2 separate regions of the Homo sapiens genome follow, and region 2 is linked to region 1. Evidence: fine-mapped expression QTL. Tissue or cell type: whole blood. Region 1 holds a variant in brackets; the other region holds the start of a gene. All regions are shown on one strand. Distances are from middle to middle.

Evidence for each region. PIP is the estimated chance that this variant, and not a neighbour inherited with it, causes the effect.
Region 2: it holds the start of LSM1, and the variant in region 1 is fine-mapped to the expression of LSM1 in whole blood (INTERVAL, PIP 0.96).

The regions. Positions count from the first base shown.
Region 1 is chr8:38,449,196-38,454,391 of GRCh38, reverse strand. The region is part of intron 2 of FGFR1 (fibroblast growth factor receptor 1); the gene reads left to right. Among named protein-coding and RNA genes, the nearest start is that of FGFR1, 17 kb to the left of the region's middle. RefSeq lists enhancers at 964-1,687, 2,412-3,135, 3,136-3,859. The variant GTGTC/C (reference allele first, on the strand shown) is at 2,188.
Region 2 is chr8:38,174,073-38,179,200 of GRCh38, reverse strand. It overlaps LSM1 (LSM1 homolog, mRNA degradation associated), which reads left to right and starts at 2,708. Exons shown (of 4, transcript NM_014462.3): 1 at 2,708-2,926. The coding sequence starts at 2,881. It overlaps BAG4 (BAG cochaperone 4), which reads right to left and starts at 2,346. Exons shown (of 5, transcript NM_004874.4): 1 at 2,062-2,346. The coding sequence starts at 2,331. RefSeq lists enhancers at 1,404-1,743, 2,654-2,803, 2,025-2,882, 3,214-3,303, 2,883-3,740.

The sequences.
Region 1 (5,196 bases):
AAGGAGTGGAAGAGTAGCAAGGAGCTAGTTGAGGTTTGAGAATGTGAATTTATAATGGAGCCTAAAGTACTTTCTTTTTTTTGCAGCCCAAGAAGGGAGAAGTGGATCTCGGGCCTGGCTGCTTGTGAGCCAGCCCGACGGGATGAGTATAAGGAACTTTAGGGCCAGGGTGGGGGTGCTAGTAGAGGAGGGGGCTTCACGGAAGCTGCTGGGGCAGGGTGGAGGCTGGAACCTGGGGGCTGAAGATCTTGATGAGGACAAAGTACCGGCCCTGTGAACAGAAGAAAGGGAGTAAGAGAGGTGGATGGGGCTCTTAGGAGCCATGTACCCAGGAAGACTGACATTAAATGACCATTTTTTAAAAATCAACTTAATTTTCAAAGGCACATTGGCTCCCACCTATAATCCCAGTACTGTGGGAGGCAGAGGCAGGAGGATCACTTGAGCCCAGGAGTTTAAGATCAGCTGGGTTTGTTTGTTTGTTGGTTGGTTGGTTTTAAGAGACAGAGTTTCACTCTGTTGCCCAGGCTGGAATGCAGTGGCATGATCTTGGCTTACTGCAACCTCTGCCTCCCAGGTTCAAGCGATTCTCCTGCCTCAGCCTCCTAAGTAGCTGGAATTACAGGTGCTCACCACTATGCCTGGCTAATTTTTATATTTTTAGTAGAGATGGGTTTCACCAGGTTGGCCTTGAACTCCTGACCTCAAGTGATCTGCCCACCTCGGCTTCCCAAAGTGCTGGGACTATAGGTGTGAGCCACCACACCTGGCCAAACCAACTTAATTTAGGTATAACAGTTTGGGCTATTGTAATAAGACTGCTGTGAACCTTCATGTGCAAGCCTGGGTGGGCACACATTTTCCTTGGACTGCCCTGGTTTTGATTTTGGCTCCACACCTTACTGACTGTTGGCTCTTGGGGAAGTTCCTCTTTGTGCCCTTTTATAAAATATATTGATAATGAATGTGTGCTCATAAGGTCATTGTGAATATCAAATAAGCATGTCTGCAGAGCTCATAGGACATTGCCTGGTCCGTAGGCCATGAGCAGTCAATGGCCGTTGTGGGTCCCTTTCCCTGGGCCTCCAGGGGAGACGGCACATGGCGAGGAGCATGTTGTTTCATGGGACACAGCAACGGAAAGCCCCTGCACTTGGAGAACAAGCCCCAGGTCTCTGTTTGGTGGAGTAAGCCCCCGTCTCAGTGTGAGTGTGGTGCTTTCACATAGCCTGTCTCTCATGAGCTTTGTGACAGAACAGAGAACTGCTGTGCCCAGGACATTCTAAGGGGAGATCTGGCTTCATGCTTTGTAAGCTGTAAGGAACCTTGTAAGTGTAAAGTATATTGCATAGTCTTGGGCCTGCTGATTATTAAATAATAATGCTGATATTTTTTAATTAATTAATTAATTTATTTGAGACGGAGTCTCACTCTGTCGCGAGGCTGGAGTGCAGTGGCGTGATCTTGGCTCACTGCAACCTCCACCTCCTGGGTTCAAGCGATTCTTCTGCCTCAGCCTCCCAAGTAGCTGGGATTACAGGCGCGTGCCACCACGCCCAGCTAGTTTTTTTGTATATTTAGTAGAGACGGGGTTTCACCATGTTGGCCAGGATGGTCTCGGTCTCCTGACCTCATGATCTGCCCACCTCGGCCTCCCAAAGTGCTGGGATTACAGGTGTTAGCCACCATGCCTGGCCAATGCTGCTGTTGTCCTAAAAAAAAAATCATAGGGCGAGCACAGTGGCTCACACCTGTAATCCCAGCACTATAGGAGGCCGATGCAGGAGGATTGCACGAGCCCGGGAGTTCCAGACCAGCCTGGGCAACATAGCAAGACCCCATCTCTAAAAATTTTAAAAATTAGCTGGGTAACGTGGCACACATCGGCAGTCCTAGCTATTCAGGAGGCTGAGATGGGAGAATTGCTTGAGAGTTGCTTGAGCCCAGGAGTTGAGGCTACAGTGAGCTATAATCAAGCCACTGCACTCCAGCCTGGGTGTCAGAAGGAGACCCTGTCTTTAAAAAAAAGAAGAAACACATTATAATCTATGTATTAAGGGCTTTGTCCAAAAGGTGAGAGCAAACCACCTAAAACCCTGTTCACACTGAGTTTTCCCCATTTAAAAGGCCTTGCTGTGATTTTAAGTGTGTGTGTGTGTGTGTGTGTGTGTGTGTGTGTGTGTGTGT[GTGTC/C]TGTGTGTCTGTGTGTCTGTCGGGAGCCCCTCCCCACTGAGCGCAGTACCAACGCCCCTCAGTCTGCAAGTGCTCCTGAGGGATTGGGGAGGGCCTGGAGTTTCTGGCTGTCCTTGGAAAGTTGATTTAATAAGGGTTCCAGGAAAACCAGCCTCCCTCCCCTCTCCCTCTCCTTCCCCTCCTTTGGTTTGGGATCTTACAGAGCCTCAGCTTGTTTCAGATCAGGCTTTGAGAGTGGTGAGGGAGTTGTTTGGAAAGACTGAAGCCGGTTTCAGATGATAAGCCCCAACATTCTGAGCTTGCAGAGGGTGCATTTGTCTGTCTTTTGCAATAAGTCAAGTCTTGGTGGGCAAAGCCAGTGAGTGAGTACAACACTGCTTGCAAGGCCACTGCTGGTAGTTGGGGTGGGGGTCCTGCCCCCTTTTCAGCAGTACTGTGGGTTAAACACCCCAGTGCTCAGAAAACCTGCAGCTCAGAAGTGATTTAATGGGCTGAGTTTTACAGCTCCTCCCACCCACCCAGATTTGAAGGAGTCTGGTGGCTTGTTAGAGGGGGGAGAGGTTGCACTTAATGGAAAAACCACACATTTCCATTCTGGCCTCAAGCCCCCTGGATGCCCTGTGTGCACCACAAAGCGGGGCTTTGTCTCTGTGTTTTGCAGAAACCTGCACCTATGGGGGAGAGGCTGTGCGTGGTGCCAGAGCCATTGCCTAGCCTCAGATCATAGGGCCCTTGCAGGTCCTCCATCCCTGGGCGTCTCCAGCTGCCTTTGGCCCAAAGGGGTGTGCGTTTCAGCCTGGCTGCAGGGAGAGTCTCAAATAGGTACTACAGGTTTGGTAGTGGGACACCCTCTGTTCCACTATCAGACCTGTAGTCTAGCATCTACACTGGACTGTGGTCCTGTGTCCCAAGGCTGCCTTGGGACACAGGCAAGACCCTCCCCTACTCCCACCCCATCTCCAGCATGATTTCTTATGATGAAAAGAACTTGTTTGCTTCTCATTCAACCTGGATGGTAAGAGGAGTTTCTTCATCCCCTGCCAGAAGGCGAATGGAATTCCATGGAGCAAAAGGTGATGTCAGATGACCCTCTTGAGAACAAGGGTGGAGGATTTAGGCCTCTAGAAATCTGCAAGGTGCTAAGCTCATAACAGGTTTCCCCAGAGGATCAGCTCTGTCCCACTTCCCCTGGAGAAGTGGCTCCAGTGCCTGGAAGGGGTGTTTGCAAGTGTTCAGAGCTGGACAGGGAGGACCCAGCCCTCGGCCTGTGAGAGAATGTGAGGACGCTCACGTGGCCCTCTTGACCAAGCTGGGGCAAGCGCAGCAAAGCCACTCCGAGGCTGTGTTCTTGGCTCCGGCTTCTGCATTGCTACACCATTAGCTTCACTGATTTTCCACTCTGGCTCTGCCAGGCCCGCTCCCTGAAGTCAGGGAGGAGGAATTTCTCAGGGAAGAACAAATGGCTGTCCAGAGATCTTGCTGCCAGTGGGGGAAGGGAGGGATCCCAAACAAAGACTCTGTCAGGGTTTCCATCACCTGGTTCCTGTGACTACCTGGAGTCGGGTCAGCAGGAACTGGAGAGACAGCATCAGGGATTCTTTGGGAGCCTGTGGCCCCAGCACGGAGGGGTGTTTGCTCCTGGCCAGGCAGAAGCAGTGAGTGATGGCTTGTGTCTGGGCGGTGATGAATGGCCCTGGGAGAAGTGAGTCCTGGGGAGTCATTATCCGGGAGGGCGAGGTCTGGGGTCAGAGAGCCCGACCAGCAGCTGGCCCTATTTTCACAATGCCTCGTTCCTCCGGGGCCACTGGGGGCTCCAGCTCACCCTGTAGACACCACCTTTGCCTCTTTCTTCCTTCCCTGAGGCTTGGAAATGAGACAACTGTTTCCCTGTTGACCGGGGAAGTCCAGCTGCTCTCATTCTCCTGGGCTCCTGAACGGGGCGGCCCAGGCCTTCCTCCTGGGCCTGGCTCTTTCACCAACTTGCAGGCAGGCAATCCCTTCTCCCCACCCACCATACTCCCCAGCCCCACTGCACCCTAAATAATTAAGCTGAAAGCTAACTGCCCTACCTGGATCTGAAGGGCCTGGGCTAAATCCCAAACTGTTTCCTCCTAGGAGAAGCCTGCTGGAGTCTGGGCCACTTCTGACCTTGGGGTTTGCTCTGACTTACAGCTGGTGGCAGCCAAGTAGCAGGGCCAATTGCCCTAACCCCTCCTCCCCGGTAGTGGGCCTGTTGCCTCTTAGCATTGCCAGTGTGGCACCAAGAGACATTGAACTTCTACCCTCAGAGTTCCCTCCCTTCTCCTGTTTCTTGGCTCACAACAGTTCTTGCCTTTCCACTTGCCAAACAGGTATCTACTGCCTTCATGTAAAGCATTTGTGCCCTGCAAACTAGGGGCTGTGGGGTGAGGGCTCCGTGTAGCTGGTTTCAGGCACTGAGAAAGATCCACCCTGGCAGAGCTTGAAACTCCACGCCCTCTCCTCGTTCACATGCTGTGGCGTGGCTGAGCCTCCCGGGATGGGTTGTGTAAAAGGTGGGGTGGGGGCTGTGCCATTTGTGTTCCCAGGCCCTGGACATGGAGACACAGGGAGCCTGAAGTGGGTGAGAGGGTCAAGGAGTTCCGCAAAGAGTAGACTTAGTGGTTACGAGGTTGGGCAGAGAAAGAGGTCAGAAACAGCAACACGGAGGTTTCTAGGAGTTAACCAACAGTGAACATTGAATTCAGAGCTTAGCCCTTCCTCACTTTTCTCTAGGATCAAAAACTAGCTTCTGGCTAATGGTCCATTCATTGACTGATTTTTTTTCACTCATTCATTTATTCATTCATCTAGTCAAGCAAGTCTCTTCCTTTTTCCGTAAATACAATGTATACTTTATACATTGTTTTATCCTAGTCCCTTAGCTGGAAATATCTGTTCCTGTCCTTTTCTTCCTTTTCACTTTTTATAATTCCTGCTCAAATCTTAGTTTAAGGTTTAGCTTGGGTTTAGATTAAAGCTTAACT
Region 2 (5,128 bases), 280 kb after region 1:
GCGACAGAGCAAGACTGTGTCCCAAAAATAAAAAATAAAAATAAAAAATAATTTATCACTGCTCCATGTTTTTCTCATACAATTGTTTACACTGTGATATAATCAACATACTATAAACTCTACCCTTTTAAAATGTACAATTCAGTAGTTTTTAGTATATTCAGAGTTGTGCAACCATCACCACTGATTTTAGAACATTTCTTATTTTTTGTTTTTTATTTTTTTATTTTTAGAGACAAGGTCTTACTATGTTGCCCAGGCTGGTCTCGAACTCCTGGACTCAAGCAATCCTCCAGCCTCGGCAACTCAAAGTGCTGGGATTACAGGTGTGAGCCATCTCACCAGGCCCTGATTTTAGAACATTTCATTATCCCAAAAAGAATATTCTCACCTACACCGCCAGTCCCCCAACCTCTGGCAACCATTAAGCTTTCTGTCTCTAGATTTACCTACTCTGGCCATTTCATATAAATGGAATCACACAATATGCAGTCTTTCTGACTGACTTAGCTCACGTAGTGTGATGTTTTCAAGGTTCATTCATATTGTAGCATGCATCAGCAGTTCATTCCTTTCTAAGGCCAAATAATACTCCATTGAATGAATATATTAACACCATATTTTGTTTATCGATGCATCAGTCGTTATGTCCTTACAACATTCCTGTATTCGAATAAAGAACCAGGGCTCCAAGAGGTTCACTCACTTTATAACTCAAATAATAAAATGACATTTGGGGCCGAGCGCAGTGGCTCACGCCTGTAATCCCAACACTTCGGGAGGCCGAGGGGCAGGGGAAAGGGGGATCACTTGAGGTCAGGAGTTCAAGACCATCCTGGCCAACATGGCGAAACCCCGTCTGTACTAAAAATACAAAAATTAGCCGGGTGTGATGGCCGGCGCCTGTAATCCTAGCTACTCGAGAGGCTGAGGCAGGAGAATCGCTTAAACCGGGAGGCGGAGGTTGCAGTGAGCCGAGATGGCACCACTGCACTCCAGCCTGGGCAACAGAGCGAGACTCCAACTCAAAAAAAAAAAAAACAAAAAAAACGACATTTCTACTTTTTGGCGATTATGAATAATGATGCTATGAACATGGGCGGACAAGCTTTATGTGAACATACGTTATCAGTTTTCTTGGGTATATAGCCAGGAGTGGGCTTGCTGGGTCATAGACTAATTCTAATGCTTAATGTTTTGAGGAACTACCAAACTATTTTCCACCATTTTACATCCCCACCAGCAATGTACGAGAATTTCACTATTACATTTTCAACAAATGAGGATAATTCTTGAACGAACAGAGAGGTATGCTGCCACCGCAGAACGACAACCCACTACCCAGAAGACTGTATTAACAAAGCAGAAGTATATGTCCGGCAGGAAAACGGAGAATAAAATGTTGCAGGTCCAAGTGTATTAGGCAAGTGAGTTAACCTCGCAGAGCCCCGGTTCCTTATTCGAAAACAAAAAAAAGGGCCGCTGTAATGCCATTTTACCTTGCAGTCGCCGTGAAAATTAAATCAGTCAATCCGCGTAAAGGTACTTTACAACACTGATTATTCATGATTCGATCTCAGGCAAGGCATTAGGGGCAAACAGCTAAATGCCCAGATCCCTCCTCCTCGCAAAGGTTCCTTCCCCTCGGGAGGGTCCCTGAGCGGCATCGGGGGCTGCAGCCACTTCCCTTCCCCGGGAGAGCCGGCCTGCCAGCCACGCAGGATAAATTGCTAGAGCTGGAGCAGTAGATCCGTGCCACCCCTACCCAGCACCGCTCCCAGGAGAGAGATCTGCAGCCTGCTGCTAAGCTTAGTAAGTCCGCGCAGGATCTTTCTTTTTTAAATGGTAATAAACATATTTTTTGGGGTCGAAGCAGAAAAGGAGGGGCAAAGGGAACACAAGCATGTCCCCCCAACCTCTGATCTTAGTCTCGGTCTCTCCAACACCCCCCGCAACACACCCTCCTCCACATAAGGAAAACAAGTATGAAACCCGATCCTTTACGAACCCCAGCCCCAAGGGCCCTCACCTCCCCGCAAGGACAGAGGGTGCAAAGCTTACCTGGTGGCTTCCTCCGGCTCGACCAGGCTCTGGCCAGGCGCCTCCCGAGGGATAGTAGCCATCGCCTCCTCCGCCTTCTCCCAGCCAGGTGGTCTCCGCCGGGCCGCCCCCGCGCACCCGCCAGGAAATGGGAGGCTGGGGAGGTTCAGGGCGAAGAGGATATAAGGGTGGAGGTGGGTGTACCGGCACATCTCCACCCCCAGGCCCGTAGTAGCGGCCGTAGGACGGACCGTCACTGGGGCCGTAGCCCGAGCGCCTCAGGGCCGACATGGGATCCGCTGCCCTGAAGCGCTTCCCGCCCCGCTCCCCACGGCCGACCCATCGCGCAGGCGCCCGCGGGCGATTGCGAATGGAGAGCAGCGAAGGGGGTCGGACGACGCCAGCCAATCCCAGGCCCGGGCCCGCCCCTTCTGCTGCCGAACCCCGAAAGCTGAGGGACGGAGGTCAGTGACTCTGGGGTCTCGGGAACCCGGAGACGAAGGAAGACACCGTGTTCCTTAAGAGGGAGTATACGTTTCCTCGCCATTTATCCAATGGAGTTTCCTCTTACCTACTTAACAGGAACAGGGAAAGGGTGTCCCCCAACGGTACGGCTGCCCCGCCTCTTCCTGGGGGCCCACACGTGTTACAGGAAGTGGGTAAGGGTAATATGGAGGAGCTTCCGGCAGCCCCCGGCGGCTGAAAGCCGGGGCAGAAGTGCTGGTCTCGGTCGGGATTCCGGGCTTGGTCCCACCGAGGCGGCGACTGCGGTAGGAGGGAAGAGGTTTTGGACGCGCTGGCCTCCCGCCGCTGTGCATTGCAGCATTATTTCAGTTCAAAATGAACTATATGCCTGGCACCGCCAGCCTCATCGAGGACATTGACAGTGAGTAGTTTATCTCCTCCCGGTGGAGCCCGGGGTTAGACCCTTCCTCCCGGGCGGGCGCCTCTTCCGAAGAAGCTTGTAGAATGAGTCCCGGGCGGGGCCGGTGTGTTCTGAGCTCAATCCGGGCGTTCCGCGTCGATGTCCTCCACAGCTGCGGTACACACCGCTTGCCCACCCAGTAGCCTGCTGCTACTTCTGCCCCTCGCAGCCTCCGCCAGCCCTCTAGCTGGTGAGCCCCAAGCGATGGAACTCATTCTTGCTTCCGTGGATCGCGGCAGCAGAGGCCCGAACACGAAAGAAGCCCGGGGAGGGGGGGGGCTTCTCCCCCGTCCACTCCTGCCTGCAGTATTTCGAAGTATCAGCGTGTTACCGGTGGATGGATCGGAATACCTAGAGAGAGGATTCATTAAAAAGCGAAAATATTAAGACAGCGGCAGTTGGACTTAATTGGCAGTAAATGTAGGCGCTCTACGGTGTGGCCATTTGCTAGCTTATTTTACTGTGAGGGTCATTAGCACCTTCAGGTTATTGTAGTAGAGACCACTGTTAGACATGGTATTGACTTTTCTGGAAAGACCAAATCACTTGCAACCTTTTTTTTTTTTTTAAGACAATTTACTTTTGCTTTTACTAAGAAGACCTCCCTTATTCCTGGTTTTTGTCCGGAAGAGGAGCTCAGTCCTATACAAAAGCGAAAAGAACCGTCTGCAGTTGTTCTGGCTTTCCTTTTTTCTAAATTCCGTCTGTGCATTATTCCTCAAGCAACATTTTTTATTGTTTTAATCATGTGATCTTTCTCATTAACTTGTTTCAAGATGATTTACACATAGTTTTAAATAAGTTGCAATCGTCTCAGTTACTCTGTGAATACGCAATTTAGAATCTATGGTTAAAATTTCATTTTACGGGCCTGGCGCGGTGGCTCACGCCTGTAATCCCAGCACTTTGGGGGGCCGAGGCGGGCAGATCGCCTGAGGTCGGGAGTTCAAGACCAGCCTAGCCAACATGGTGAAACCCCGTTCCTACAATTAGCTGGGCACTATGGCGGTGCCTGTAATCCCAGCTACTCGGGAGGCTGAGGCGGGAGAATCGCTTGAACCCGGGAGGAGAAGGTTGCAGTGAGCCGAGATCGCACCATTGCACTCCAGCCTGAGCGACAGAGCAAGACTCCGTCTCAAAAAAAAAAAAAAAATCATTTTATGGTTGACAGATCTTTTTTCTTTTCTTTTCTTTTTTTTTTTTTTTTTTTGAGACAGAGTCTTGCTCTGTCGCCCAGGCTGTAGTGTGCAGTGGCGCGATCTCGACTCACTGGAACCTCCACCTCCCGGGTTTAAACAATTCTTGTGCCTCAGCCTCCCAAGTAACTGGGATTACAGGCGCCTGCCAGCACGCCCAGCTAATTTTTGCATTTTTTGGTAGAGACGAGGTTTCGCCATGCTGGGCAGTCTGGTCTCCAACTCCTGACCTCAGGTGATCCACCCACCTCGGCCTCCCAGAGTACTGGGATTACAGGCGTGAGCCACCGCCTCCGGCCGACAGATCATTTTTTTAAACACAAATTACTTATTGTGCTATGTAAGGGAAATGTAGTGTAATTGGACTAAATATATATTAACATCTATATGAACCTGTTACGTGTAACAGGATGTTTTAGTTGCTCGAGGATGCTCTTTTGCCCTCATCTCTCCTTATATATCCTCTAACACATCCTGCCATTTTACTAAAAATCAGTTTTGCTCTTTGGTCCTCTAACCCCTACCTCTTTGTAGATTCCAGACCCCCTACTTTATGAAAACTTTGAAGCCATTTGATATGCACCCTTTGCTCCCCAACCCTAACACACAGTTTCCTCCTTGTGTTTCTGTATTTTCACCCATCCTTTAATTTGAGTAGGAAGGATTCCTCCCTTTTTGTCTGTCTGTTGTTACTGTCTCCTCTCACTGCTTCTGGAACCTTTTTTCGTTGTTAGCCTTTTTCTTTTATATCCTCTGTCTCCCCAACCCCTGCGTTCTTCCCCTCATGTGTTACTGTCTATCCATCTCAAATATTTTCTCCGTTCTCTTCATATGCCCATCCCTTTTTTCATATCTTTATCCCCAAACCTCGAGTCATTTTCATTTTGTCTGTTTCTTGATCACCTTCAATAGACTACTTACATTACTCCTGCAATCTAATTTTTATCCTGAAATTACTCAAGCTGCA